Linked DNA regions of Homo sapiens. The protein of the gene in region 3 purifies or fractionates together with the protein of the main gene of each other region. This does not show direct contact. Each region holds a gene or a part of one and is shown on either strand. Other genes may lie near its edges. The genes, in order: ANAPC7, EPB41L3, TAF4, SUPT3H, SMCHD1, NAP1L4 and ANAPC1.

Region 1 (3,500 bases), on a different chromosome or scaffold from region 3:
GAACACAACATACGCTACATGGTGTTAAAGGTAATGTCATTCACAAGTGACACCTATTTATTACTCAAGTAAACGACTTTGCATAACACAAGCCCAAGTCTCTTCTTGTCCTTGAACTTTATCTGAATATAAAGAAAATCCCTAGTCCTAAGCAGGCAAGCTAGGTTAGACACTGCAATAAACCAAGCTTCTGGTGAGTGCAAAATGATTTTCTTCCAGGCTGAAGAATGATACACCAAGGCCAGGCATGGTGGCTCACGTCTATAATCCCAGCACTTTGGGAGGCCCACGTGGGAGAATCACTTGAGCCCAGGAATTCAAGACCAGCTTGGGCAACATGGTGAAATCCCATCTCTACAAAAACATACAAAAATTAGCTGGGTGTGGTGGCATGCGCCTGTAGTCCCAGATACTCAGGAGGCTGAGCAGGAGGATGGTTTGAGCCCGGGAGATTGACAGGTCAAGGCTACACTGAGCTGTGACTGCGCCACTGCACTCTAGCCTGGGAGAGAGAGAGAGAGAGAGAGAGACAGAGAGACAGAGAGACAGAGAGAGAGAGAGAGAGAGAGAGAGAGAGACAGAGAGAGAGAGAGAGAGAGAGACAGAGAGACAGAGAGAGAGAGAGAGGCAGAGAGAGAGAGAGACAGAGAGAGAGAGACAGAGAGAGAGAGAGACAGAGAGAGAGAGAGAGAGAGAGAGAGAGAGAGAGAGAGAGAGAGAGAGACCGACCTTGTCTCAAAAAAAAAAAAAAAAATGACACACCAAGGTAGCCTGCTTTGCTTTGCAAGGGTTACTACCTGTGCAGGCACAGAGCTAAACTCAGTCAGATTTCTATTTTTACAGGTCTCCAACAGAGATGATTACATGATTACATTTGGGACCATTCAGTATAAAAGACTAACACATCCCAGAGACTGGCTGCAGCACCAACAGCAAAGCATCTCATTTTTCTTTTTGCTACTTCAGATACATCAGACTTCCAGACAAGCAAAGGGCCTCAAGAACACTGAATTAACTTTGTGGCTCTCACCAGATGGTACTGATTGCTCTTGAGTTGTCACCAGTGTGCACAAAAGCATACGCTTTGATCCACACAGAGAGCCAGTCCAAGTTAGGCACGGTTTGGATCACATTCATTGTCATGGATGCCACCTCTGCCCCTTTTACAGAAAGGGACAACAAGCCTAAACCAACAGAAAGCAGAAGAAAGAAAGTAAGGCACGATATCTCTCTTCCACATGCAAGGAGCAACGGGCTACATCTTCCCTTGGCTAAAAGGCAACTGCTTCCCTATTCTGAGCGATGCATGAGAGAAAAACCATAATTTAGTATTTCTTTTCTTTTTGAGACAGTGTCTTGTTCTGTCCCCCTGGGCTGGAATGCAGTGGCACAATCTCAGCTCACTGCAACCTCTGCCTCCTGGGTTCAAGCGATACTCATGCCCCAGCCTTCCGAGAAGCTGGGACTACAGGCACGCGCCACCATGCCTGGCTAATTTTTGTATTTTTAGTAGAGACGGGGTTGTGCCATGTTGCCCAGGCTGGTCTCGACCTGCTGAGCTCAGGCAATCCACCCACCTCAGCCTCCCAAGGTGCTAGAATTACAGGTGTAAGCCACCATGCCCGGCCAAAAACCATAATTAAGTATTTCTTGATTGAATATGTGACAACAGGAATCCTACTAAATCACTCTCTTCAGGGGAACTTTTAAAAAAAATAAAGTTATTCTAATGTACAGGCAAGATTGAGAACTACTATCTTTGACAGTAAACATGCCATGAAAACAGGCAGGAAATATCTCTACCTAGAATGGCATCAAGGGCTAATGGGCACTGCCTCAGCACCTCCTTATAGCTGGTGACTGAAGGGCGCTCCTGACCAGCCTTCTTGTACAGGTTTGCCAGCATCATGTTTATCTGTACAAACACAAATAACAGATAGCAAAATAAGCGTATATTGCAAAGAAAATCTCTCACCATGAAAAAGTCCTAATTTTCATTACCAGTTATTTACTTTTTACTGGAAAATCTACCCACAACCCTGTGCAAATAAAGGCAGACTGACCCCATTCTTCAAAAGAAAGAAGAAATTGGCCAGGTGCAGTGGCTCACGCCTGTAATCCCAGCACTTTGGGAGGCCGAGGTGGGTGGATCACGAGGTCAGGAGATTGAGACCATCCCGGCTAACACAGTGAAACCCCGTCTCTACTAAAAAATACAAAAAAATTAGCTGGGCGTGGTGGCGGGAGCCTGTAGTCCCAGCTACTCGGGAGGCTGAGGCAGGAGAATGGTGTGAAACCGGGAGGCGGAGCTTGCAGTGAACCGACATCACGCCACTGCACTCCAGCCTGGGCTACAGAGTGAGACTCCATCTTAAAAAAAAAAAAAAAAAAAAAGAAAAGAAAAGAAATTACTACCCTTCCTTTCCCTAGCTCCTGCCTTCCCTAAGAGGAAAGTCACATTACCTTCCCACAAGGCCCAGTAATATCTGAACAAAAGACGCTGCCCTCTGGAAACTGGAATAACATTCATTTAAGAAATGGTAGAGAACGCTAGTTAACTTGATTCTTTCTTGATCTTAAAACAGAAGATGAACTATCTCACATAAGAAAGTGAGAAACTCTTGACATAGCTAGTTAAGAAGGATCAGCTCAGTTTTTCCTAATAAGGAAATGATACAGAAAGACAGATAAAGAAGTATAATACTTGGCTTTTCTTTGACAATTCGACTTGTGGCTAGACTCTAGCCTTTCTAACACTTAAGGCTTTGGCCCGTAGGTACTAACTCACTAAAGTAATGCTACAAAAATCAGCTACACTATTTAAATCCAGTGAGTGCAGACAGCTGCATTTTAGCGTAATTTAAATATGTAACTTTGTAAAGCTAAATTAAAATAATCCTACCTAACATGCAACTGGGAAATGAGAAAATCTAAAAGTTCTGGCCGGGCGCAGTGGCTCATGCCTGTAATCCCAGCACTTTGGGAGGCCGAGGTGGGTGGATTACGAGGTCAGGAGATTGAGACCATCCCGGCTAACACAGTGAAACCCCGTCTCTACTAAAAAATACAAAAAATTAGCTGGGCGTGGTGGCGGGCGCCTGTAGTCCCAGCTACTCAGGAGGCTGAGGAAGGAGAATGACGTGAACCCGGAAGGCAGAGCTTGCAGTGAGCCGAGATCGTGCCACTGCACTCCAGACTGGGAGACAGAGCGAGACTCCGTCTCAAAAAACAACAAAAAAAACCCACAAAAACAAAAAAAAAGCCAGAAAATCTAAAAGTTCCTAAGAATGTAGAAGTTATAGGCAAGTGATAAAAGACCTTCCTAATAGTACACAGATAAACACAATATTCCAATTTAAAATTAGATTTTTTTTTTTGAGACGGAGTTTCACGCTTGTCACCCAGGCTAGAGTGCGATGGCACGATCTCAGCTCACTGCAACCTCTGCCTCCTGGGTTCAAGTGATTCTCCTGCCTCAGCCTCCTGAGTAGCTGGGATTA
Region 2 (3,500 bases), on a different chromosome or scaffold from region 3:
GTTATATGGAAGAGTCAGCTTGCACTCTGCTGCAAGAAGCTGGGAAGAGTCTCTGCCAACCTCTGTAGGCAAGGATGATGCAGGCTCCTAGACTACCTGAATAGGTATTAATAGTTTATTAATATCTATTTCTCTGTGTTTTATATCAATTTCTTTCAACTTCTTCAGAGTCTGTGTGTCTCCAATTTCTTCTCACTCACTTTTCTCAGGCTGTAAATAGGATTGTAAAAGCAGAGAGAAGAGGAGTGAAAAACCAGCTCTCTCTGAGCCTGCTTATGCCAGCACCACAACCCCATCTCACTCCTCACTGCTAAACTTTAGGAAGCAGAAGCCACGACCTGCTGCCTCTGCTACCTACTCCTGACCTCAACACACCTGGCAGGTGCTCCTGTTGCCCTTCTGAACTCTGAAATGTCATCATGGGGCCTGACTGTTAAGTTCAACACACTTTTGTTAGTCCACATCCTGCGTGCCCTTTCTGTAACATATGATACTGCTAGCTAACCACTTTCCTCTGAAACTCATCTCCTGGTCATCCATCAGCCTGTTTCTTCTTTTATTTCTCTGGCTGTCATTTCTTCAGCTCCTTGGCCCTTTCTCAAATAGTGGTATTATCCAGAGTTCTAGTTTTGGGCCTTTTCTTTCTCTAACTTGCCTTGCTCTTTGAGTAATTTATTCCATGTCTAAGGCCTTGAATAAAATATATACAGTTGATAACTCTGTTCAACTCCTTCCTATGCAAGAGTTACTCCCTGAAAATCTGTTTCAAAGGGATTTCAGTTGTTTTTCTGAAATTTTCCCCCTTTTCCCTCCTGCCGAATGTCATCTCCATTGGCTTCAATCATGCAAACTGAAAACCTTTGATTATCCTGGACTTTTCCCTCTTTTAATTACTTCCTCTATCCTGTCTCTACGACCTGCTGCTTCTGCCTCTGAAACCTCTCTCTTGCATTTGTTCCCTCCCGTCTATTCCCACAGCCTCTGCCCTAGTTTAGGTCTTATCACATCATGTTTCTAAGTCGTTGAATTTCATTAAGAAATGTATCATTCCAAAATATTCACCTAGTTGTGTCACATCCTGATTTAAAACCTCCCATGACTTACTAGTTGTCCACTGATTCATTTCTCTAGCTCTCCCCTCTGGCATCTCACAATACTATGCTCACTCCATGTCTACAGAATATCATCTCATTTGCATCATGCTGTTACAATCAAAGTATATGAGTCCGTTTTTCTGCTAAATAGAAAATCCCTTAACAAGGAACAAGGTCATATTTGTCTTTAGATTTCTAATGTCTGACAATAAATAGGTGCTCACTTAACAAATGTTCAATGAAGTCAAATGACTATCTATTGGCTATAAGTTTAATATACAATCTTTAGGAAATATTTTTAAAACACTATAATTTTAGTTATTTACATGAAAAGCTTACAGATTATTTCAGTTATCATAGATAGGTATGATGTTATGTTCATACTAAACATCATTACATGCTTTATGTTTCAATTTTTTTGTTATTTTTGAGACAGGGTCTTTGCTCTGTCACCCAGGCTGGGGTACAGTGGTGTGATCAAACTCACTGCAGCCTTAAATCCTTGGGCCCAGGTGATTCTCCCACCCTTGGCCTCCCAAAGTTCTGGGATTACAGGCATGAGACACCATGCCCAGCCGATATTCTGATTTTTTAAATTGCATTTTCCACCAAGAAACTCCAGTAGAGAAGTAGATTTTGAAGATAAGAGATAATTCTATATCATATCAGAAAATGTTCAGAGATATAAGTATGCTAGAATCTTTGAGCTTTGACTGCCTCTGTTATACTAACCATACCAATTAGAAATTTGAGGTATTTATTAACTATCTCTTAAGTAAATAAGAGTAGATATGTGTTACTATTATGTACAAACCACTAAGGAAGATATAAACGTAAGTTGATCATGGAGGCTGTTGTCCAAGGAGTAAGGACTAGTTAACAATTCTGATTGTCTCATTAGCTTCTCTGACTTAAAACAAACAAACAAACAAACAAACATATATTGAGCTATAGAACATTGATATAATTCACACTAATTGTCCTTTGTTCTAATATTCCTTGTACCTTGAAGTACAGGACCTCTAAACTGTTCACTTTAAAGTACAACCAGATTTGCAGGACAAACAGAAAGAGCATGGAGAAATAACAACAGCATGTGGAGGAAGAGATTTATCCATTACTGCTTGAAATATACACAAAATTATTAATGATACTGGAATTTTTTTTTTTTTGAGACGGAGTCTCGCTCTGTTGCTCAGGCTGGAGTGCAGTGGCACGATCTCGGCTCACTGCAAGCTCCGCCCCCTGGGTTCACGCCATTCTCCTGCCTCAGCCTCCCGAGTAGCTGGGAATATAGGCACCTGCCACTACGCCCGGCTAATTTTTTGTATATTTAGTAGAGATGGCATTTCACCGTGTTAGCCAGGATGGTCTCGATCTCCTGACCTTGTGATCCACGCCCCCACCCCGCCCCCGGCCTCCCAAAGTGCTGGGATTATAGGCGTGAGCCACCGCACCCGGCCGAGACTGGATTTTATATTAAAATATGTTTTTAAAAACCCTCCAATTAACGTATGCAGTAGGAAATATTGGAACAATATAATAAAGAAGAGAATATTTATTACTGTTTATTGGGCAAACCTACAATAAACTCTCTCAGGCACTTAGATGTCATTCACTGTGTCCCACAATGCTCAGAACTCATAAGCAGATAATTTAAATGCTTGCTTGCTATCAGGGATCTTTCCTCCCAACGCACAGGCAAATGTGGGTATACTTACCTCTCCCGGCCGGATCTTAATGTAAAAGTTGTTCCGTTTGTATGAAATCTTTAGAACCTTGGGCCAGGCAAATCTGTTTATTCGCAGCCGGTCGCGATATATCAACAGACCACTTGCACAAACTCCTAACATAATTTCTACCCCTTCTGAGTCCTGGAAAATAAAAGCAAGAAACAACAGATCAGTATCTAACTTATTTCCATTTTCTGCTGGGTAAAGTATTTAAGCATCCACGACAGAAACTATAAATGGCTGGTTTACTTATGCAAAATGATGCAGCCATTTTTAAAACATTACCATTAAACATTAGCCTTTTGGTGAAGATGTTTATCACTATGGAGAGGTTTGTTAGAATAAAATCTGCTCTCCCAGGTGTCTCAGACTTACAAAGTAAATACTGCACACCAAGAGGGCCCAGCTCATGAAGGTATGTTAATAACGGTAATAATAGTAGCCACAGTTCTCACTTGTCAATTGCCAGGCACTGCTCTGCTTTACATATATTAACTCTTTTAATATTCACTGTAATTGAGATGGTCACTATTATTATTCCCATTTTACAGATGAGAAAATAGGTACAGAGTTCCAGCTGAACACAGCCTGGTTCCAGAGGCAGCACTCTTAACCAACACGTATGCTAACAAGATGGACCCTGTCTTTTCCTATGAGGGTTTTGGTTGTTGTT
Region 3 (2,292 bases):
CAGAGACCGTTCCCAAAGGCTCTCCAAGGTGCTCGAAGGCAGGGAGCGGTACACATTGGCGCTGAGCCTCTGAGGGCCCAGCAGGAGCTGTGACCTGTCAGGACCAACCAATACCACAAACTGCCCTGGAGACGCCCTCTCTCGCCACAGGAGGTCTGCGTCAAGGCTGGGGCCCTCTGGGCACCTCAGCCGGGCTCGCCACGTGCGTTTCTGTGTACATCTCCCCCAGCACTGGGCCTCCCGCCGCCCCTCCTAGCTGTGCCCAGCTCATCTCCACCTGTGACAGCAGAAGGTGTTAAGCGCAGCCGCCAGCCCCCAGACTCCACGCAGAGAGTAGCTCGGCCCCTGTCCTCACAGAGAAAGTTCTTTCTCCCGGCTCTGATGGGGCTCAGCTACAGATTCCAACAGGTGGCTCAGAAACCAGCACCTCAGCAGAGCCGGAGTGCAATCTGGCAGTAGAATCTAAAACTGGAAAACGGAGGAAAAATAGGCAAAACAAATACAGATAAATTTGTTTTTAATAAAGGAGTTAATTTTCTTTCAATCCTATATAAAACAATAGCAATTAAAAACTTCATTTCTGAAAGTAAAATATTTACATATGAACAAGTAACTGTGCAAAATTTACATGAAAAAATGGAAAGACAGGGATTTCCTAAAAGACAAAATAAAAGGTGTAACAGTTCTCAGGTGTTGATAAAAAATACTGATCAGCGTTCAGTTCACACGCGCTCGAATTAAAGTCTAATGTGAGAATTCACACGGAGAAAGCCAGAGTATTTACAGTCATAAAAGTACTATCAATAGACAATTTCATACAATAACCTCTGAAAATAGAAAGAACCAATTAGTATATTTGTAATAAAAAAATAGGTACAAAGAAGGGGCTTTGCTCTGGACGTCTGTAAAGTCGGCCCAAGGCTTGCATACAGTCTCTTAGCAAAATAATTATAGTTTACATAGCCATTTCTATGTCATGTGCCAAAAGTTATGTACAATTACTGACAAAATACACCAACCATTTTTCAACACTTGATTCACACCGAGAAACAGTCTTTTGATGATTCTTCTCAACTTTGATTTTATTTAATCTAGGTTTTCACTTTTAGCTAAAAAACACAGTGCAAGTAAAATATATTTATGCTGAAAAGGTTTTCATCTCTTTTAACTTTACAGCTTTACAAACTATAGCAAATAAAATGCATTTGTACAGATGCTGACCACACATTCAGAAGGAGCCACCTTTGCTGGGCTCGGCCTCTACCAAGCAGAAATGCGATTACACTCTGAGGTGGGGGTGCAACGATGAATTGTGTATTCCTCCAGGATTCTCAGCGGAGTGGAGGGGAAGGGAGGGGAGGGGAGGGCAGGGGGCAGAGAGGAGAGCGGGGTGGGAGGGGAAGGGAAGGAAGATAAATAGTCTAAAAAATCAGTTTGCTTTGCCAACTGACTATTACAAAAATAAAATAAACGAAATGAGGTCATCGGCTGTAGACATACACCTACATAGTAAGTTAGGTAGAACTAAACCAAAATGCACAAATAATGCAGAAACTGCTATGAGTTGACAGAGGGCAGCTAATTATTTGCTAACGATTCCATCAGTCTTTATATATGGCTTGTTTGGCAGGAAGGCCACTCAATCAAGATGAGTTAAGATTTAATTGTCCTTTAAGAGTATCCACAGGCCTTTGTGTTCTCTCTGTTACAGAAACGTGTTTTCTTTCACACTGAAGAGCTGATTTAGAAACAGGAATATAAAACTGTTCCATTGTAAAGAGGTGGCTGTTTTTTAAACAATATCCCATTTGCTCGTTACAAAAAGGCGTAATCTGCAAATATATAAAAAGTCCCCAGGCGTCCTCCTGTGTCACTTAAGGAATGCTTTGTAGAGCAGCAGTGAATGGCTTGTCTCACGTTCATTTTCTAAACAAAATATGAGGTCCCTGAGGTTGACCCGCGTGATTCTTTGTCGCGTGAACTGTCTGGGGGTTCCGACACCCGAGCTGCCTGGGACCACTGAGCCGGGGCCCGACCCCTGGTGATGAAAAAGGAGAAGACAGTGTGTTAGTGGGGCTCAGAGTGGGGCTTGCAATGAGCCTGTGTATCTGAGCCAAGTACCCCGATTCCAGAGGAGGCCAGGCCTGGCACGGGCTCCTTCCGGTAGGCCCACAGCTGGAGCTGGGGTGCTGTCCAGGGCCCTGCCAGGGCAGGGGCAAGGGCAGGAGGCCCCATGCTGCACCTTCAGGACAGGGCACACTCAGATGCTGCCCAATGCCCCACAGTGCTTGG
Region 4 (3,500 bases), on a different chromosome or scaffold from region 3:
TTGATGTTAGCTGCTGATTTTGTCAAGTGATAAAGGGCAGGAAGGAAGACTTCCAGTCTCTGAATATTCATCTTGACTACCAGTCACAGGAGGGGAGGGGTGTCTGCCAGCCAGAAAAAAGTTTGAGGCTTATACTAACATATTTTGTCAGGAGGCTCTCTGACACTCATGCTCCCACCTCCCAGAGAGCCCAGGAAATCCAGCACATATAGGATATTCCTCTCAACTGCTGGGTAGCTGGGAACAGCGGCTGCGGTTGCTGAGCAGTTGCCTAGGGCAGCTTGGCCACCCTGGAGAACCAAGAAAAGAGGGGAAATAAAGAGTTTTCCTAGGCATGCAAGCAATCACTTGAATGTTAAAAGAAAACTAGGCCCGTTGTGTTCACAGTAAATTTTCTCAATTAGAAATGTTATAACAAATTTGTCTGATGTTAATGGAAAGCATACTTATACACATATTCATAAAGTGAACAAACATCAAAGACATTTTAAAGGGGGTTTTTTGACATCATAATTTGGGTTTGTAACATAAAGAAAACAAATAGTGATTAATCAACTAAGTAAGCTTTAGGGACTTTTGTATGTTGACTGATAATGATGTATGACCTTTTCTAAGAAAAAAATGGATTTTTAATGGGCATAAACATTTTAATCCCTATTTGGTTTCCAAGCCAATTTGATTTTCCAAGGGGCATAAGAAAATGTTGAATTGTCCTTTTGTTTGTAATAAGATGCTATATGGGCATATATGTTAACATATTTTCTATGTATCCTAGAGCAGAGAAATTTAAACCTAGGGTCCATAGGGTTCACAGATCCCTTGGATCCATAGAATGGCTTCAGAATGTCTCTGAACAATCTGAAACTGTAGGCAAAATTTGTGAATGTGTTTATAGAAAAAGGGTTTATAGTTTTCATCAGATTCTCAAAGGGGTGTGTGACCTAAAGAAGATTACAACTACTTCTTAGAAATGATTTGAACCACTATCCTTGCCTATAGATATTTAACAAGGAGTAGAAATGTGTAATCAAGGTATGGCTATAAAACAGAGCTTAGCCATTTTCAGGTTATATATTTCAACCAACTTGATCCAAAACGTACTTCACAACTCTACATGTAGATGCGAACTTAACCTTCTTGCTGTCTTATCTATGGATATTCGATTGAATTACGTGAAACTGCTGTTTTTGTTAGTGAAAAGGGTCGAATATTGGCAAATACATTCAAGACACTGCAATACATTTCTGGTTTTGAGGTAGATGCTGTTTACAGAGGAGATTCTGTATACTAAAAGTGGTGCACAGTTATTATACAGAGCCTTAAAATTGGAAAGAAAACTTTACGGTTCCCATAGCAAAGCCAGATCAGAAAAGAATATAATTTTCACATAGTAGGGGCAATCTAAAAACTCAAGATGAATGAAGACAAGCTTCTTTAAATCATTTTTAGAGATGAATCAATAACTGAAATGGAAAGTTATCAATAAATGCCAGGGATTATTTTGTGAATAATAATGATAACCCTCTTATCTTTTGAAGCACAAAGAAATAAATGACTTTTCCAACATTACCTAAACCAGTTTTTCATCTCCCATAAAAATAAGAAATGCCTTGCAACTATCCCTTTCAATGAAGGGGTAGGAAAGCTAAGTGAAGCAAGAAAAACGTGAAAAAAGTCATTGTCTTAAGTGGACTGTCAGGGCCTGGCACACAGTAGGTGCTCAATTAAATACTTATTTGAATGTCTAATGTATTAAGATTCTTTGACTGAAGGTTATACACTCCTGCATAATCTTTATTAAAGAATCACTAATGTAAATACCAGATATGTGTCAAAATTCACAAATGTTTTAAGACAGATTTTTTTTGTACTTACCTCAGCAGAGTTGTGATACTGAATGAAGGTTGCAGAAATGGCATGGCTGAAGGGGTCCCCTGCCTTGGTTACCATGTCTTGCCTCACAAGAAGAGCCAGATCCACTAACTAGAAGACCAGAAGAATGAAAGTCACATAGCTAGAAATAATCATGAATGCCACTGAAGTGGCAAACCTAAAAGCAATACATTCTGAATGTTACTGATAATCCTGCTTGCCTAAAAATCTATATTGTAGACATGAGCACACACTTTCATTGACTGGTGAATGGACCTAGTCATGATATATTCTGACTTTTTAGGAGAGTAGTTCTCAAAATTTATTTCACAGTCACTAGTGCAAATTTCTGGGCTTTAAGTCCAGAGATTCTAATTCAGTAGGTCTGTTTTAAGCATATAGTCTAGGAATTTGCTTATTTTATTTTATTTTATTAATTTTTGAAATGGAGTTTCGCTCTTGTTGCCCAGGCTGGAGTGCAATGGTGCGACCTCAGCTCACTGCAACCTCGGCCTCCTAGGTTCAAATGATTCTCCTGCCTCAGCCTTCCTGAGTAGCTGGGACTACAGGTGCCCGCCACCATGCCCGGCTAACTTTTTTTTGGTATTATTAGTAGAGATGTGGTTTCACCATATTGGCCAAGCTGGTCTTGAACTCCTGACTGCAGGTGATCCACCCACCTCGGCCTCCCAAAGTGTTGGGATTACAGGCAAGAGCCACCGCGCCTGGCCAGAATTTGCATTTTAAACAAGAACCAAGGAGATGCTGATGCCTGTGGTCTAAAGACCACATCTTGAGAAAGTCTTTTAGAGGGCGAGATTCCAGACCCAGAATTTGGTAAGTACTCCTAAATTCTCACATACGTAGAAAGGTGTTTTTCAAAGCTCAAAAATAATCTCTAAACAAGGCAGATGTGGATTTGAGTTCAATGTCAAGAAAAAGCATGCAGGGATTCCATTTCTCATTAAGATAAAGGTACAAGAACTCTTTTTTATCCTAGCATCCACTTGAATTGAGGATGCAGAGACACATAACTGAACTAAATTTTAGAAAATGATGTAAATGCCACAGGAGAGAATTCATGGCTGTTATTACTGGTAGAGCAGCAGGGAGAAGAAGAATTGATCATGGGCAGAGATAAAGAAAAACCAGCCAGTGTGGCCCGATATGACAGATTAGAATTCTTACCTGTGCCACAGTTTCATACGCTAAATATGCTAAGATTTCCATTGCGACAACATTGGGTTTTATCTCCATACTGCTGCAGTCCAACCAGTCTCGAAATTTGGAAGCTTTTTTGGCTGGCCATTTAAAAAAAACAAGTGCAGAAATTTTAATTTTTAAAGTGTTTTAATACTGCACATTACTATCACAAAATTAAAAAAGTATACTCAGAATTGTACACAAAAAATAATGCACATAAAATGCATAATTAATGTCTAGATATTCTGGCCCCAAGAAATCCAAGTTTTAACTCTCAGTTATAAGGCAACACAATGGTTGTTTTCAACAACTCTCTTACGTATTTGGGTCTTTTATTTTACACCTATGCTATATGACATAGTATATTAAAGCATTTAATGTTTAATACTTCTCACACTGTCAGATTTACCATTGGCTACCGCTCA
Region 5 (3,500 bases), on a different chromosome or scaffold from region 3:
AAAAATAATAGACTTATGTGGGATTATATGGAATAATTAGATATGTTTAGGTGAACATAGATCTTAAAAAAATCATTTGCACATAGTTTTTCAGTAACTACAGGATGCATAATTACATGATTTAACAAGTGGGACATTGGCCAGGCCTGGTGGCTCACGCCTCTAATCCCAGCACTTTGGGAGGCCAAGGCAGGGAGATCATCTGAGGTCAGGAGTTTGAGACCAGCTGGCCAACGTGGTGAAACTCTGTCTCTACTAAAAATGCAAAAATTAGCCAGGTGTGGTGGCACACGCCTGTAGTCCCAGCTGCTTGGGAGGCAGAGGCAGGAGAATGGTGTGAACCCGGGCGGCGGAGCTTGCAGTGAGCTGAGATCGTGCCATTGCACTCCAGCCTGCACAACAGAGCAAGACTCCATCTCAACAACAATAACAACAAAAAACCAAAAAAAAAAAAAAAAAAAAAAAGGGACATCATAGAAATAAAAAAGTAGTAATGAATTAAAAAATACACGACTGTCATGGTTATATGAAACCTAATAAAAATCTATAAGGTCATTTTTGTCTCTGTTAAACAAATAGAATCTTCCCAGTCAGTTTATGTTCATGGCTTTATTTCTCTAGGGTGGAATTGCATGGAATATGAGTATCTTTTAAGTTTACTAAAGTATGCCAAATTAATTACTTTCTTTATGTTTGACTTTTTTTCAGTCATATCAGCAGTGTGTAAGGTACCTATTTCTCTGTACAGAGGCCTACACTTGATGGGCTCAGAATTTAACATTTTTGCCTACCTGATGAGAATAAGTTATATTAATTTCACTGATAACTAGTGATGTTGATCTTTTTATGTTGTCTGGTCTTTTTCTTTATGACTTGTGCTATTTGCATCTTTTGAGACAGAGTCTCACTCAAAAGTCACCCAAGCTAGAGTGCAGTAGTGTGTGATCACGGCTCACTGCAGCCTCGGCTTCCCAGGCTCAGGGGATCGTCCAACCTCAGCCTCTTGAGTGGTTGTGACTACACGTGTGCACCACCATGCCCAGCTATTTTTTTTTTTTCCATTTTTTGTAGAGATGGGGTTTTACCACATTGCCCAGGCTGGTCTTGAACTCCTGAGTTCAAGCAATCCGCCCACCTTGGCCTCCCAGAGTGCTGGGATTACAGCTGTGAACCACTGTGCCTGGCCCACTGTTTGTACCTTTTCAGAAATCCCTTTATGCTCACTCAAAATTATTTCCCTATGTGTTCTTTTACAATTTTGGGCTAATGTACAACTGCTTTAATTCTCCTGGAATTTATTTTTGTCTAAGTTAAGGTGTGGATTTTATCTGTTTCCATGTTGAGATAACTAGTTGTCTTAATATCATTCATTGGATAGTTTATTCTTTCCCCACCAATTTGTAATGTCACCTCTCTTGTTTGCTAGGCTCTGCATCCATATATATGTGGACCTGTCTAAGGGCCCTCTATTCTCTTCCACTGGTCTATTCCAGGAATTTTTTTTTTTAAGACGGAGTCTCGCTCTGTCGCCCAGGCTGGAGTGCAGTGGCGCGATCTCACCTTACTGCCAGCTCCACCTCCCGGGTTCACGCCATTCTCCTGCCTCAGCCTCCCGAGTAGTTGGGACTACAGGCGCCTGCCACCACGCCTGGCTAATTTTTTTGTACTTTTAGTAGAGACGGGGTTTCACCGTGTTAGCCAGGATGGTCTCGATCTCCTGCCCTCGTGATCCACCCTCCTCAGCCTCCCAAAGTGCTGGGATTACAGGTTTGAGCCACCGCGCCCGGCCTATTCCAGGATATTTTAAAGTAGAAATTTTCTTATGAAAACCTTCAGACACAAAGAGAGAATCATGTTATGAACCCCAGTGTACTCATCCAGATTCAAGTTAATAGGAATTTACCACACTAGGATCATTTTTGTTTTTGTAATGTATTTAAGGCATATTCTAGGTCTTAGGTCATTTCACCCCATATACTTCAGCCTGAATATGTATTATCAAACCATTAAAATAAAGCATTTTTAATATTGTCTAATGTCCCTGTCCATATTGAGTTCTCTGAATGTTTAAAAGTATCTTTTTATAGTTGGTTTGTTTAAATCAGGATCTGACATAGTCCTCACATTAAATTTGTTTTTTTTTTGTTTCCTAATTATTTTCAATTTAAAGCATTTGAGCAAATTCCTCCTCCACCAGTCTCTTTAGTTTTCCTGCAGTTGACCTCTTGAAGAAATCAACTAGGTCTTTAATATTCCACATTATGGATTTGTTTGTGCTCTTTTTTGGTGTTACTTAATTTGTTTTATCTCCGTATGTATTCTGTAAACTAAAAGTTAGCTTTAAAGGCTTGATTTGATTTAGGTTCAACTTCTTTGGGGTCAGGAGGCAAAGAATGCTTTGTAGGTAGTACTGATACTTCATATGGCATTACACTGGGAGGCACGTGATGTGTGGGTGTTTCACCCACTCATAGCAATGCTAACATTAAAATCTTGGGATTCACGTGATTTCAGCAGGATTCCTCCATAAGGAAGTTTTGATCTGACTTGCCATTCCTCCTGTGTTTATTAGCTGGAATTCTTTAAGGAACAACTTTGCCTCATCAGCCAGAGCTATTTTGGTTATCCTGAAGTACCATTGATACAAGAAAAGCAGTGTAAATAATTTGTTCTTTCCCTTTAATTTGTCAGTGTTCAGAGTGACAAGTTGGTGCCCTAGCTCATCCCAGTGGTGAGCAATAATGGTTTTTATTAATATCATTTTTGAAGATTTGAGTATCACTAGTCTAGATTTTTTAGATGTTTTCAATAAGAATGTTAATCTTTAGACTAGTCCATTACTACCCGAAACAGAAGCCTTTTCTCTTAACTATATATTGCTGTATTGTTTCATTTTAGACAGAGCATGTATGTTTTAATTCTAATGTAAATGAAAATGTTAACCACTTTTCTAATTCTCATTTTTTGATTAATGTGATTTTACAGTTCATGTGTTCATTGGTCATTTGTATTTTCTCCTTTTCATTTTTTTGTGTTTTTACTTTTTCTCTTTGTTGATCCTTGTCACCCTTTTGTTTCTTGTTGCAATTTCCCTCTAATTTTTTTTTTTCTTTGAGACGGAGTCTCATTCTGTTGCTCAGGCTGGAGTGCAGTGGTGTGATCTTGGCTCACTGCAACCTCCGCCTCCCCAGTTCAAGTGATTCTCCTGCCTTGGCCTCCTGAGTAGCTGGGATTACAGGTGTGCGCCACCACACCTGGCTAATTTTTGTATTTTTAGTAGAGACAGGGTTTCACCATGTTGGTCGGGCTGGTCTTGAACTCCTGACCTTGTGATCCGACGGCCTCAGCCTCCCAAAGTGCTGGGATGACAGGCATGAGCTACCATGCCTGGCCAGTTTCCCTCTAATTTATAATTTGCTTTAATTTTTAAAGTTATTCGTTTGAATGGACCTGTATGTCTTACAAAGCATGGCTGTTCTTCCCTCCGTGCTATAAAATGC
Region 6 (3,500 bases), on a different chromosome or scaffold from region 3:
GCTGTATTGGTGCCCAAAGTGTGATGGCTTCTGCACCATCAGGAAGTTGAAAATCTTTAGCTGAACCATTGGAAATCGGGGACTGTCTTTATTTTACATCTTTAGGTGAAACATCCAGGTTTACCCAGGGAATCATTTAATATTTTTCTTTGAACCCTAAAATTTAGAATCTTAAAATAAGTTATAAAAATATCCAGTTTTCAAAGTCTTTTAGTAGACATTATTTATAAATTTAACTCTTGAGTTCCTAAGTAAGCTAATAACATAATTCTAATAAGGTCTCATTTTTATGTAGAGAAGAGAATTTATCACCGGCGATGTTGAACCAACAGATGCGGAATCGGAATGGCACAGTGAAAATGAAGAGGAAGAGAAATTGGCTGTAAGTCTTTAGAAACATGTGACTCATGTTCTGTTTTAATACTGTTAAAAATAAGCATTTTTTAATGATTTTTAATGACTAGTAAACTTATGTGCTTCTAACAGTAGGTGCTGCTGCATCATTAGGTTGGGTTTAGATTCCTTTCTGATATGGATCTAGCATCTGACACAGTACTGTCAGTTAATAGGAGTAAGATGTAGTGCCACCTCAGTTATCTGTGGACAGGAGCATATTGAAATAAGGGATCAGACCAACAAAGATTAAAACATCAGAGAAAGCAAAGATGAAGAAGAGATGCCCCTGTGTTCTCAGTCACTGGAAGATTGGGGGAGTTGTGAGGGGAGTGCCTTCCTGCTCAGTGGCATGGACTAGCTTGCCCCCTGAGAGGTGCTCCGCCAGTGGATTGGTTGCAGATGGTGGTTGTGGTGTGGCCATCAGTCACCTGCTCACAGCCTTTTTCTAGTGACTGGTCCCATTCCAGTGCTGTGAAAACTCCCAGTGTACCATGGATTAACTTTGTCAGCCTGATTTTATGTTTGGGAGACAAGTAACTTTTATCCTATAACTAACTTTTTGCAGTTTTTTTTTTGGGGGGGGGGTGGTATATGATGATTTTGGTAGCCATATGTGTTTTTGATGCTTTAAAAATATATAGAACCTGGCCTAATTGAAGCCATGGCTGTGGATTAATACAGTTGTGAATCAGTTTCTAACAGCTCAAGGGAAATCTGCCTTTGCTGATTTAAAAGGCCTTTCATTTCAAGATCATTTCATCATAACAATCCCGTTTGGCAAGGCATTCAGAATTTCCCATAGTTGCATCTGGTGTTGCGTTTCACCTCCCTTGGTCTACCTTTTCCCTGGGGCCTGACTCCCCTTCCTTTTGCCATGTGGCCTTTCTGGTCACTTTCTGATGCTTGCGTGGTGTCTGAGCTGGCATTTATAGCCACTTCCTTACAAGCTGGATAAGTTGCTGAGCACTTTCTTGCTGCAGATACTGCTGCGGCAATTTTTTTTTTTTTTATTTCAACTTAGCACCCCACAAATTTTAACAAGAGGTCAGATTATTAGTCCAAGTGAACTTCTTTATCCTTGCACTGGACTTTTTTTGCCCAGTGCTAGATGTTCTGCATATTTGCATTGCATCTCCTTAAGGTTGATGTACAGTCTTTGCATCTGCATTTGTGATGATGATTGTCTCAGGATGGCACCTCACAGAGCTAGCACTGGATGGCCTTTCCCAGCGTCGGTGGCACTTTGTCATCTCTTTAGTTTCTTCGCCTTTGATGTGAAATGGTACGGAATTCCGTGTGGATGTAATGACTTGAATGCTTTTTCCTCAGAAGCATCTGAAAAGTGTCGCGTGGCCCAGTGAGTGGTTTGGAGGTGCAGACTTAGAAAGCAAGGTGTTTGATGGGAGATAGTAGAGGATTCGGCAACGATATTCTACGTGAAGCCGCTGCATTGTTTGTAAACTTTTATTTTCGTTACCTATGTTGCATCTTTTTTTTAGGGAGACATGAAAAGTAAAGTAGTCGTCACAGAAAAAGCAGCGGCAACGGCTGAAGAGCCAGATCCCAAAGGAATTCCAGAGTTCTGGTTTACCATCTTCAGAAATGTGGACATGCTGAGTGAATTAGTCCAGGTAAGCACACTTCTGTCTTGTAGAGAGATTATGTGCTAGTCTTCTAACATTACTTATCTATGGCATTTTTTAAGCACTACACTGGGCATTGAAAGATTGTTCATAGTGGGCGGAAGGGCACTTTCTCTGACCAGGACCTCAGATGAGCAGTCCTGATCTCACAGTGAATGGTTTATTCACAGTGGGGCTTCCATGCTGTCTTTTGCAGTTCTTGGTGGAAAGCTGGGCGCTTCAGCCTGATCCAAAACTTTCAAATCAGTTCCTTTTACCTCTTGTAAAGCTCTGTTGTCTTGCCTGTGGGAAAGCCTATGAATAGATTCCAGAGCCCATCTCTGTCTTCCTGTGGTGTGAGTGTGCAGGAAAGGGTGAGGGCAGGAGACCAGAGCAGAATGAATTTTGAAGGGATGAGCTGTGTGTTTGTTTGTGTGTGTGTGTGTACACACACATCTCAGTGAATTTTTGAACAAGTTGCTAATATTTTCTGATCATTTCTCTTGAAAAAGTGTCTATTTTTTTTAAAAAAAGAGGCCAGGCATGGTGGCTCATGTCTGTAGTCCCAGCACTTTGGGAGGTCAAGGTAGGCAGATCGTTTGAGACCAGCCTGGGCAGCATCGCGAAATCCCATCTCTACAAAAAATAGAAAAGTTAGCTGGGCGTTGTGGTGTGCGCCTGTGGTCCCAGGTACTTGGGAGGCTGAGGCAGGAGGATCACCTGAGCCGAGGAGGTTGAGGCTGTGGTGAGCTGTGATCACGGTGCTGCACTCCATCCTGGTGGGTGACGAGACCCTGTCTCCAAAAAAAAAAAAAAAAAAAAACAACACAACAACAAAACCCAACCACCATTTCTGATTTTGTCTTGCCTTGACATTTCACTTTCTGTAGTGAAATGGTGAACAAATTAAAAGGTAACAAATTTGGTTTTCCCTGAAATGAGTTATAATAGAAGTTTCTAGAACAGAGAAACAAATCTTGCCTTAAGTCTCACTGACTGACTTGCCGTCAGTTTTTATTGCTCCAGCGTCCCCAGAAACAGCACGTCTGCATTCAGACTTGCTCAGGACAGCTGCAGGCTCTGCTTGTGTGGGCAGAGTGCTTCTCCCATCACAGAGCATAGGCACTGTGCGTTGCAAACTGCTACATTGTAATTTGCACAGGATTTTACAGCTACGGTTTTTAATGGTTTTCACAAATGTATCACATTGCTGCCTCTGCTACCTCCCTTGTTTAATGCTTGTCCTGTGTCCTAAGCCAAAACTTGAGAAAAGATGGAAAGAATGATGTATTTCTTATTCTCCTTCCAGACCAGAAAGCATCTAAAATAGAACAGCCTTGGTTTTTCCTGATCTGAGCTTCCTTTTCATATGAAAAGGTGGAATTTAAGAAGACTAGACCATACTTTTAAAAGAATGCCATGCACCAGAATTTCATTGGAAAAATTAAGTAATGTCTACCAGAGCCGTAGTCTCACCCTGTG
Region 7 (3,500 bases), on a different chromosome or scaffold from region 3:
CTGACATACCTGGCAATCACTTATTATTTAACAGCATTTTGTGTTTTTTTTTAAACTGTGGTCAAATACACACAATATGAAAATTAACATTTTAACAATTTTTAAGTAGACAATTCAGTAGCATTAACATTAAATTGACGAGCTTAGTACAATTTGTGAGCTTGTACAATACTGCACATTTCCAGAACTTTTTCCTCATCTCAAACAGAAACTCCGTGCCCATTAAACAATACTCCCCATTTCCCAATGCCCTGAGCTCTGGTAACCTCTATTCCACTTTCCCTATGAAAGGGCCTGTGCTAGGTATCTCATGTAAGTGAAACTGTACATTTGTCCTTTTATATCTATTTTATTTCACTTAACATAATGTTTTCAAGGTTCATCCATGTTATGACATGTATCAGAATTTTATCCCTTTTTAAAGCTAAACAATATTCCACTGTTAGCATATACCACATTTGTTTATCCATTCATCTGTCAATGGACATGGGTTGTTTCTACCTTTTGGCTATCATAAATAATGCTGCTGAAAACACTGGTGTACAAGTATCTGTGAATCCCTGTTCTCAATTCAATTGTGCATATACCTAGAACTGGAACTGCTGGATCATAATGGTAATTCTAAGTATAACTTTTCTTTCAAGAGATGGGGTCTCACTCTGTCACCCAAACTGCAATGCAAGGCATGATTCTAGCTCGCAGCAGCCTAGAACTCCTGGGTTCACATGACCCCCCTGCCTCAGTCTCCTGAACAGCTTGGGAGTACAGGCATGCACCACCATGCCTGGCTACACGTGTAACTTTTTGAGAAATCGCCAAACTTTTCCACAGCAGCTATGTTACATTCCCATCAGCAATGCACAGGAGTTCCAATTTCTGGACATCCTCACCAACATTTGTTATGTTTCTTTAATAACAGCCAACCTAGTAAAGTGGTATCTCATTGTGGTTGTAATCTGCATTTGCCTAATGATTAGCGAAGCTGAGCATCTTTTCATGTGCTTACTGACCATGTGTGCATCTTTAGAAAAATGTCCATTTAAGTCCTTCTGCCCAATTTTTTAATTGGGTAGTTTGTTTTATTGTTGAGTTGTGGGAGATTTTAATGGTTAAGAAATGAAAATTCAGGAAGAAAACCATGCATGAGAGCTGTGCTCCAACCTGAAATGTCCAAAATCTACAATGCACCGATTACAGTCTCAACTTCCTTTGATGAAATCCCATCCTCTCAGCCTCTAAAAGTAAATATTTTAACATCTCTTTTATCCCTGATATCTAAGAGATCACTAACCCCTTCCACATCTCCCTCTGCTTTATCACCCCTTCTTTGCCAAGGCACCAATCTTTTACCTGAACAGTCACAAAATAGTGCCCCTGACAACAGTCTCCCTCCTCTCCAGTCAATCCTATATATATATTGCTAACAAAGCAATCTCTTCTCAAAACACAAAATTGATCGCTTCCATTTTAAAATCCTTGGCAGGCTCCCTTCAGCACACAGTTTAAAATCCAAATTCCTTGGTTTATATACAAGGCCCTTTGGTCTGTATACTGCCAGCATCCACTTGCATCTCTCCACACCCACACTTCGTGTACAGCCATTCTGAAGTTTAAAAAGTCATCTTTTTCCATAATTCTTTTTGCTGTGATTTCCTCTGCCTAGAATGCCCTTCTGCCACCATTTTATAACACAAATAGCATCTTCTTTGAAAAACCCTCCCTTTGGCACTCAGTCCTTTGGGCTCTCATCACTCTGTGGACAGGTAGTTATTATACAGCATTCAGAATACAGCATTTCAGGTGATCTGTTTGTTCTCCTTTCTAGGCTATGAGTCCTTCAATGGCAGAAACTACATTCACCTTTGTAGCCCCAGCATAATGGCTGAAACAGAGTGAGACTAAATACTTGCAGAAGACCAGGCACAGTGGCTCACGCCTGTAATCTCAACACTTTAGGAGGCCAAGCCAGGAGGATCACTAGAGCCCAGGGGTTCAAGACCAGCCTGGACAACATAGTGAGACCCCCATCTCTATTAAAAAACAAAAAGAATAAATGAAAAAATAAAAAGAACAACCAAAAAAAAAATACTTGCAGGATAGGTAAAACAATGAACAGATAAAATCTGAGTCACATATACCTGATATTATTTCATAAACAAAATAGAAAATTATCTTTCTCCATATTAGCAAGAAGATTAAGTAACAATATATTTTCCAGATCAAAAGACTGAAATTCCAAATCTTACAATTACACTTACAAGTGATCTTAAGATAAAGGAGATAATATATCTAACTGCACTTCCATAGAATCTAGTAAATAGGCAACTGTTCTTGGAGAAATTAAGATGAAGATATAGAAGCAAAGAACTACTTGGATATCATCAAATGCACTTTTCACATCTATACTAACTATATGAATTATATGGGAAAAAATTTACCATCAAAAAGATCACTGGCTTCAACACTCCAGGACACAAATGCTTTCACATATGCCCTCAAATGTTGGAATAATGATTCAGTTTATCCTTTCCAATAAATAGAATACAGTACTCATCAGGAAATAGTTAACGGTAGGCGGGAGGAGTGGGAGGAAGCAGTATCCAGATACAAAGATTTCAGCATTTACAAAAATGAAACTTAACATTAGTCAAAGCCTCCAAAACCTCGTCAACCCTAATTCAACTACAATAAATGCATTAGTTCTTCCTCCAACTTTTTGTTATAAAAATTTTCAGTAAGAAAAGTTGAAATAATGCAGCAAACATATTTCACCTATATCCAACAATCATGAAAATTTTGCCATATTTGTTTGTGTGTGTGCATTTGTGTACATATGGGATTTTCGGAATGGGAATGCTGACTGTTTAAAAATAAATTGCACACACATCATGACATTTCACCCCTAAATACTTCACCATGCCTTTTCTAAAAATAAAGATGTTCTCCTATAAAACCATAAAATCATCGTCCCTGAGAAAAAAATAATACTTCTCTAACATCAGCTACTGGCCAGTAATTTTCAACTTTCCCAAATTTTCCCCAAAAATATCTTTTTAGCTAGAAAACCAGGACTCAATCAAAGTTCATTTAACAAGGATCAAAAAATACTGCATTTGGTGATGTCTCTTTAGTCTCTTTCAATGTAGAACAGTCCCCACCTTTTTTTCTTTCTCCGTGACTTTTTTAAAGAAACCAGAATGTAGACTATAAACTTTTTATAATGGAAAATTTCAAATAAATACAAAGTAAACAGAATAGGATAATGAATCCCCATCAGCCAGTTTTAATAATTATCAAGCTTGGCTGGGCATGATGGCTCACGCCTGTAATCCCAGCACTTTGGGAGGCCGAGGTGGGTGGGTAGATCACAAGGTCAGGAGATCGAGACCATCCTGGCTAACACAGTGAAACCCCAGCTCTACTAAAAATATAAAAACAAAATTAGCCGGGTGTGGTGGCGGGCAACTGCAGTCCCAGCTACTCGGGAGGGTGAGGCGGGA

The links.
Region 1: the proteins of TAF4 (region 3) and ANAPC7 fractionate together in Homo sapiens (co-fractionation; one large-scale study listed by BioGRID). This does not show direct contact.
Region 2: the proteins of TAF4 (region 3) and EPB41L3 purify together in Homo sapiens (affinity purification with mass spectrometry, with the first as the bait; one large-scale study listed by BioGRID). This does not show direct contact.
Region 4: the proteins of TAF4 (region 3) and SUPT3H purify together in Homo sapiens (affinity purification with western blotting; one study listed by BioGRID). This does not show direct contact.
Region 5: the proteins of TAF4 (region 3) and SMCHD1 purify together in Homo sapiens (affinity purification with mass spectrometry, with the first as the bait; one large-scale study listed by BioGRID). This does not show direct contact.
Region 6: the proteins of TAF4 (region 3) and NAP1L4 fractionate together in Homo sapiens (co-fractionation; one large-scale study listed by BioGRID). This does not show direct contact.
Region 7: the proteins of TAF4 (region 3) and ANAPC1 fractionate together in Homo sapiens (co-fractionation; one large-scale study listed by BioGRID). This does not show direct contact.

What each region holds. Positions count from the first base shown.
Region 1 is NC_000012.12:110,386,709-110,390,208, forward strand, and holds part of ANAPC7 (anaphase-promoting complex subunit 7), read right to left. Parts: intron 1,916-3,500; coding exon 1,804-1,915; intron 1,185-1,803; coding exon 1,031-1,184; intron 1-1,030. UniProt on the Homo sapiens protein: Component of the anaphase promoting complex/cyclosome (APC/C), a cell cycle-regulated E3 ubiquitin ligase that controls progression through mitosis and the G1 phase of the cell cycle.
Region 2 is NC_000018.10:5,425,498-5,428,997, forward strand, and holds part of EPB41L3 (band 4.1-like protein 3), read right to left. Parts: intron 2,969-3,500; coding exon 2,816-2,968; intron 1-2,815. UniProt on the Homo sapiens protein: Tumor suppressor that inhibits cell proliferation and promotes apoptosis. Modulates the activity of protein arginine N-methyltransferases, including PRMT3 and PRMT5.
Region 3 is NC_000020.11:61,974,298-61,976,589, forward strand, and holds the end of TAF4 (transcription initiation factor TFIID subunit 4), read right to left. Parts: intron 2,039-2,292; coding exon 1,871-2,038; 3' UTR 501-1,870; downstream 1-500. UniProt on the Homo sapiens protein: The TFIID basal transcription factor complex plays a major role in the initiation of RNA polymerase II (Pol II)-dependent transcription.
Region 4 is NC_000006.12:44,951,435-44,954,934, forward strand, and holds part of SUPT3H (transcription initiation protein SPT3 homolog), read right to left. Parts: intron 3,174-3,500; coding exon 3,061-3,173; intron 1,984-3,060; coding exon 1,876-1,983; intron 1-1,875.
Region 5 is NC_000018.10:2,662,226-2,665,725, forward strand, and holds part of SMCHD1 (structural maintenance of chromosomes flexible hinge domain-containing protein 1), read left to right. Parts: intron 1-3,500. UniProt on the Homo sapiens protein: Non-canonical member of the structural maintenance of chromosomes (SMC) protein family that plays a key role in epigenetic silencing by regulating chromatin architecture.
Region 6 is NC_000011.10:2,968,330-2,971,829, reverse strand, and holds part of NAP1L4 (nucleosome assembly protein 1-like 4), read left to right. Parts: intron 1-295; coding exon 296-382; intron 383-1,895; coding exon 1,896-2,027; intron 2,028-3,500. UniProt on the Homo sapiens protein: Acts as a histone chaperone in nucleosome assembly.
Region 7 is NC_000002.12:111,874,194-111,877,693, forward strand, and holds part of ANAPC1 (anaphase-promoting complex subunit 1), read right to left. Parts: intron 1-3,500. UniProt on the Homo sapiens protein: Component of the anaphase promoting complex/cyclosome (APC/C), a cell cycle-regulated E3 ubiquitin ligase that controls progression through mitosis and the G1 phase of the cell cycle.